Linked DNA regions of Homo sapiens. The protein of the gene in region 1 interacts with the protein of each later gene in a biochemical or structural test. Each region holds a gene or a part of one and is shown on either strand. Other genes may lie near its edges.

Region 1 (3,500 bases):
ACCCAGGAGAACAATGTGAAGTAATCCCAGGATGACAGCTGGGTAACAGGTCTACTAAGCTTCCCAAATTAGAAAAGGCAGGCCAAGACTCCGGAAAGTCTACCAAGACAAGCTGAATGGCTACAACATGAGAACCCATTATAATATTAAATTTTAAAAATAACTTCAATGAGCTTTCCTCATTCAACCAGGACTTTGTTATATTTCTTTTTTTTTTTTTTTTCCTGAGACGAAGCCTTGCTTTGTCACCCAGCCTGGAGTGCAATGACATGATCTTGGCTCACTGCAACCTCCACCTCCCGGGTTCAAGCAATTCTCCTGCCTCAGCCTCCCGAGTAGCTGGGATTACAGGTGCCCACCACCACGTCGGGCTAATTTTTGCATTTTTAGTAGAGACGGGGTTTCACCATGTTAGCCAGGCTGGTCTCTAACTCCTGACCTGAGGCGATCCGCCTGCCTGGGCCTCTCAAAGTGCTGGGCTTACAGACGTGAGCCACTGTGCCCGGCTGACTTTGTTATATTTCCTTTTTAAGGATCACAGGTTTAACAGAAGTGAAGTTTCTCTATGGCTCCACAGTACTTGGTTCTATAGTAACTAATACTCATGTCAACATACATATTTAAAAGAGTGGCTATTAGTACTCAATTTCTAGATTTTCCTGCAGAAGCACAGAAAACTTTAGAAGAGTTATAAAACATTATATAAATGCAATAAATCTTGCCAATGTAACAGTACTAACCAAAAACAAAGGCTGGGGCCGGGCTCAGCGGCTCATGCCTGTAATCCCACCACTTTGGGAGGCCAAGGGAGGGGGAGTGGATCACCGGAGGTCAGGAGTTCAAGACCAGCCTGACCAACATGGTGAAACCCTGTCTCTATTACAAATACAAAAATTAGCCAGGCATGGTTGCAGGTGCCTGTAATCCCAGCTAATCGCGAGGCTGAGGCAGGAGAATCGCTTGAACCCAGGAGGCGGAGGTTGCAGTGAGCCAAGATGGCGCCATTGCTCTCCAGCCTGGGCAACAAGAGCAAAATCCTGTCTCAAAAAAAAAAGGAAAAAAGAAAACAAAGGCTAGGAAGGGAGGAGGGAAAAACAAAGGCAAGGTTTGGCTTTTAAATCCCAAAAGGAAAGGGATCGGTGTTATATCTTTTTCTGAAAGACCAGGAAGTGAGGAAATATAGTTGTCTCTCAGTATCCGTAGGGGGCTGGTACCAGGGTCCCCTGCAGATACCAAAATCCAAGAATGCTCAAGTCTCTTACATGAAATGGCATAGTATTTGCATATAAGCTATACACATCCTCCTACGTACTTTACATCATTTCTAGTTTACAATACCTAATATATGGCAAATGCTATGAAATGGTTGTTATACTATACTGTTTAGGAAATACTGACAAGGAAAAAAGTCTGTACATGTTCAGTACAGATGTAACCAACCTTTTTTCCTGAATATTTTTGATCCAAGGTTGGTTGAAACCAAAGATAAGTCATTCACAGACATGAAGGGCCAAATATACTGTCTAAAAGTGATAGGTCAATAAACAGAAATTTATAATAAAAAGTTAAAAATAACAGCAAAATTAGGAACCAAAATGTAACTGATAGAAATCAAAGTCTAGGACAGGTGGAAAATGACCTAAATTTCTTATCTAGCAAAAAGTTAAGAAATATTTTTTTTGAGTTGAAAAAATATAGAGAGAAAGGCATGGTATATTTTTAGACTTTTGGAACAACAATAAAACCCTAAAAACAAACAAACAAAAATGGTTAAAAGCATAATGGGAGTGGGATTTAATGGAAAAGGGAAGACTTTCACTATTTTGAATTTTTTCAGTACTGTCTGCACAAATATTGCTTTCATTTAAAAAATATGAGAAATGGAAATGAGAGAATAAAAAATGTGACATCAGGTGATCCACCCGCCCCAGGCTCCCAAAATGCTGAGATTACAGCCTTGAGCCACTGCGCCCAGCCTATTTCACTTTAAGTTAAATATATTTTGTTTCGAACGTGCTTTCATAGACATGAGCTCAGGTGAAGCCTTGGAAATTTTAGTTGCATCCCATAATAGCTTTGAATCATATGGAAGATTCTGTTATATCTATCATAGCTATTAGTCTGTATCCCTGCCCAATAAATGGGGAGAGGAGCGTGATGAGGACCTCTAACCTCAAATCCCCCATTAACTTCCCATTCTCCTGCTGCATCCTAACAGCACTTGAAGTTATCAGGATGGTGACTCCTGGTAGGTGTAAGGAAACCAAACACTTAAGCCTTCTAGACAGAAGACCTTCTGTTACAGAATTACTTAGGCTTCTTAGCATGAAAGACCCAAATCTGATCTTCGAATTATGACACAACAAATTTACCCAGTTTGGTAAATGTTCTGGTTTACCCAGTATCTATTGATAAAGTTATCATCGCTGGCTCTCTCAGGCCAAATGCACAACCAGATTCTCACAGGCACATTCTCTCTCATTCTGAGACACACACAGAATAAATTCTCAATGCATGAAAAGAAGGGGATGAAGAATACAGAAGGGAGATCCTTAAAAAAAAAAAAAAAGTCACTACAATAGATCCCCCTCCTCCCCATTGAGTGATGAGAAGTAGGGAAAGTAGATTAACCAGGTTAAAGTGTAGCAGGGACCTTTTTGTGAATGACTGCCACCAGCAGACCACAATATTGGAAATATGCAACTGGAAGGGTAAAGAAAAAGCTGCTCTGGTTAAAGAAGAGGTAAGTGATTCCAGAAACTCAACTCCTGCTCTCCTCCATCCCTGTGCTTAGCTCTTCTACAGACTAGTTTGAGACAGGGTCTCCCTCTGTCGCTCAGGCTGGAGTGCAGTGTCAAGATCAGAGCTAGCTGTAACCCAGAAATCCTGGCTTCAAGCGATCCTCTTGCCTCTCAAAGCGCTGGAATTACAGGTGTGAGCTACCAAGCCCTGCCCTCCAGACCATTTTTGGAGGAGGAAGCAAGGCAGCAGTGACAGAAGTTCAGGCCATCAAATCTTATGATCTTGTCCCACATTAATTCACAACTAGTTAATTCAAAATCTGTTCATTCACAAACTAATCACTCCTTCAGCTCCTAACAACACAGATGCCATAAATAAGCAACTGGTAAATTGAGTAATTTCTTCTCTGGCACCTTGAAAGCTTCTAATATATAACACATTATTGTAACCATCTTTGAGCACACAGGCCACATTTTCCCTTTTCAGAGAACTTCCCCACTTCCTTTCCTTCAATCCATCAGGATAATCTGCTGATCAGGTTTGTGTGCTTTGACTCTAAGCCCCCGGCTATGGATGATTAGAACAGAAGTAGAGACCTAAACTCAGCCAATCAGATTCTCTCTCCCAGAAGAACTGGAAGAGAGGTGGGCTGGTATTCTGGTCACCCGGACTGAAAGGCAACAAGGTATAGAGCTGCCATATTCTGCTATGACCAGCCAAGATCTCTGGTACTGGCTCACGCAGCAGTCTCCAAAACT
Region 2 (3,500 bases), on another chromosome or scaffold:
GAAACAATTCTAAGTGTTACTAGCTGGTAAACACATAACAAATCACTGTTAATATAAATATTAAAAGTAGTGGGATGAACAAAAAGTATGAATCCAAAGCTATCGTTACCATACAAAACTACTACTGCTGAAATTCTCAGATGAAAGGGTCAGTATGTTATGTGAGTAATGAGACAACAATCAAAAGACACAAACCACACAGAACATTAACAAAAAGGAGGTAGGGGACAAAACAAAAGGATGGCCAGAAGCAACAGACAGCTCCAAAATTCATATTAAGTTGTACGTATTTCTAGACTTAAGTGTATAATTATTATAAATTTTTAATGCAAGCCATGATTTTTGATTTAGGTTAAATCAACTCAAAGCCAGCAAGTAATTGTGCATAATTACAATTGAGCAGGGTTCAGAATTAACATATGAAACAATAAATAACGGAAGGAAAAGTCTATGTCAAATAGTAGGTGGTATTTTAAGAGTAATTTAACAATATATTAGGGAGAGACAAAATACATTATACCTGACCAAACTGAAGTGCTATCATACATTTTGACCTTTAGAAACTACATTTTAGGCCAAAGATAAGGATACGATCTGTACCTGGGAACAAAACACCACCTTTGATCATTTCTCCCATGATGCACCCAACTGACCAAATGTCAACTGAAAACAAAATGCAATGACATTAACATAAAGATTTTGGTTAAAATAAAAAAAAAAAGAAAGAAATAAAATCACACACACCATGTATACTTTAAAATTATAAAAAGCAGTATAAAATAAAAATGAGTGACAGTGAATGTGCTCTGACTACCAGCAGAGACTGTATGTCCTACTGCCAGATGCAGCCTACAAATATTTCAGCTTCTTATCTCAACAATTTTTGAACTATAATAGCCACAAACTTTATGCCTGTTTAAAAACCCATCTGTGTAAATGTAGCATATTCATTTTCATTAGAGAACATAAAGAAGTTCATCGCCTAACTAATTAACTGCTGCAGCAGCACAAGGATACAGTCCCTTCCTGGAAAGAGGATTTTGTGGCAAACCATTTCTCCCATAATGCACCCCACAGACCATAAATCCACTATATGTTTGCAGCACAAAAGAAGGAAAAGCAAAGCAAAAGGTCATTAAAATCAAAGAAGCATAATATGACTGCATTATATAAAAACTGCAAAACGTCACGAAAAGAAAAAAAGTGATTGTAACTTTAGCTAACGGAATAATTTAAAACACAAATTATTTTTTGAAAGTCTGGTTCACAAAAGAAAATGTAAAGTGTGGCATTTTAACTACATATCTAATTTCAAAGTGAGAGCTATGCACAGAAATTGCATAAATAGAAAAACCCTGCATGTTTGTCCCTGAGAACTTGTTTATAAAATATGAAATAGAACCAAACACAAACTTTGTAAATAAAAATGTACATGAGGTAGTAAAATTATAAAAATAAAATTGTTATACTATACTATTTAGAAGTTCAACTGTGCATTATACTCTCTAAGAAAAAAGCATGAGAAAATAATTCAGCATATTAAAATATCTAACAGAAATAATCTCTATGAATAATTATGATAAAAAAGTTAATCTAAAGCTCTTTGGAATTTTTAAACTGGATTTCCCAAATACATTTAACTGAGAAGTGCTATGCTTGTTCTGAATTAAAAGTCCATTTGTTTTCTTGGCAACATCATGCTACATTTACCCTACTATCCCAAAAGGAACAAGTGCACAGAGAATGAACAACTAATCAAGGAAAACTTAGTAAGAGAAATGTATTTCATGTTTCCTACCTAAAGTTTTTTAAACCCATAAAACCAAACTGCTTTTGGCTTAAGAAGTTAGTTTTGGCTAGATACAGTAAGTCAGTTCCCACGAATTGAGTATGAAGAGTCTCCTGGAAGACTTACTGATGACCCTTGCCAACTGTAAATGGGAATCCCAATCAATGTTGACAAGAATCTGCTAGACACAGAAACAGACAATTTGGAATCTCCACTTACTAAGGGAAACTGACAACACATCGTGGCATTTTATGCCTTTGGGTTTGAACATCACACAAAAAGGAGAGAGTAAGTGCTTGCAGTGTAACAGGAAAAGAGGGAAGAATGAGCAATTTAGAAGGAAAAGCCTTAGAAACTTGCATTTAGTTGTGACATCTGAAGGTCCCAATTCTTTAAAATGACAAGTGGAAAACGGCACAAATAGATGTCAGAAAGACACGTGCCCTTTACTCATGTTAAAGGACTTAGAAAATTAAAGCCTGTACTTTCTAATACAGTACATTCTTATTAAAAGGCTGCCAGTTCACTGAAGAGTCTTAAGAGCTAAACTGGAAATTACTTTTGGAAATACTGTGGAACTAAAGTTTCCCTAAAATGTCATATTAAAATGAATGAATATTTTCATATTTATGTCATGGTTCAGCTTTCAAGGATAAGATTTTAGAAAAAAAATTTAATATTTATAAATTAGTGCCTCAGAGAAAAATTTTTTCTAAGGTTTCCGTTTTTGACAAAAATCTATTAGAATAAATCTTCTCTACAGATTTTATAGAGAATGTTAAACTTTAAATATCCAGCTTACAACTTATTTGGTAACTTTCAGAAAAGCTCATTTTTAAACAAAAGTATTTTGAAAGCTGCAAGCATGAGAGAAGATATTATCTGGGCCAGTGAAGACTAGGAACATAAGTCTGATTCATGCACAACTCTAGCTGTAAACTAACTGCTTAGTCTATTAAGCAGTTAAAAATATATTGATTACACTGCTTTCCAAAATGCTCTGAGTAGCCTGCAATAAAAGGTACATAAAGCAAAGTTGTTAAAATGGGTGGGAGGCCAGGCGTTGTGGCTCAAACTCCTGTAATCCCAGCACTTTGGGAGGCTGAGGCAGGTGGATCACCTAAGGTCAGGAGTTCAAGACCAGCCTGGCCAACATAATGAGACCCTGTCTCTACTAAAAATACAAAAATTAGCCAGGCATGGTGGCACATGCCTATAGTCCCAGCTACTCGTAGGCTGAAGCAGGAGAATGGCTTGAAGCCAGGAGGTGGAGGCTGCAGTGAGCCAAGATGGCATGACTGTACTCCAGCCTGGGCAACAGAGTGAGACTCCATCTCAAAAATAAATAAATAAATAAATAAATAAATAAATAAATAAATAAGATAAATAAAATGAGTGTGAGGTGTCATTAAAAGGAGGAAGTACTTATGTTTAACCTTGCTGGCTAATGTAGTTATAATCATTAAGCATTACATTTGACTCCGTTTCCTAGGGTGGGAGTGGGAAGGCAAGAAGGTGATCTACATAATTCTTAACTAAAGAGGAACCATATGTCAGTTCATTTTTTATTCTATTTTATTTTTTGAGACAGAGTCTTGCTTTGTCGCCCAGGCTGGAATGCAGTGGTGCAATCTCGGCTCACTGTAACCTCCACCTCCCGGGTTCAAGCGATTCTCATGCCTCACCTCCAGAATAGCTGGGATTACAGGTG

The links. Proteins that work in one complex are often made in the same cells at the same time.
Region 2: the proteins of PIAS2 (region 1) and MAPK8 form a complex in vitro, tested with the Homo sapiens proteins (one study listed by BioGRID).

The regions. Positions count from the first base shown.
Region 1 is NC_000018.10:46,911,008-46,914,507, forward strand, and holds part of PIAS2 (E3 SUMO-protein ligase PIAS2), read right to left. Parts: intron 1-3,500. UniProt on the Homo sapiens protein: Functions as an E3-type small ubiquitin-like modifier (SUMO) ligase, stabilizing the interaction between UBE2I and the substrate, and as a SUMO-tethering factor.
Region 2 is NC_000010.11:48,421,677-48,425,176, reverse strand, and holds part of MAPK8 (mitogen-activated protein kinase 8), read right to left. Parts: intron 1,090-3,500; coding exon 1,018-1,089; intron 664-1,017; coding exon of another isoform or gene 592-663; intron 1-591. UniProt on the Homo sapiens protein: Serine/threonine-protein kinase involved in various processes such as cell proliferation, differentiation, migration, transformation and programmed cell death.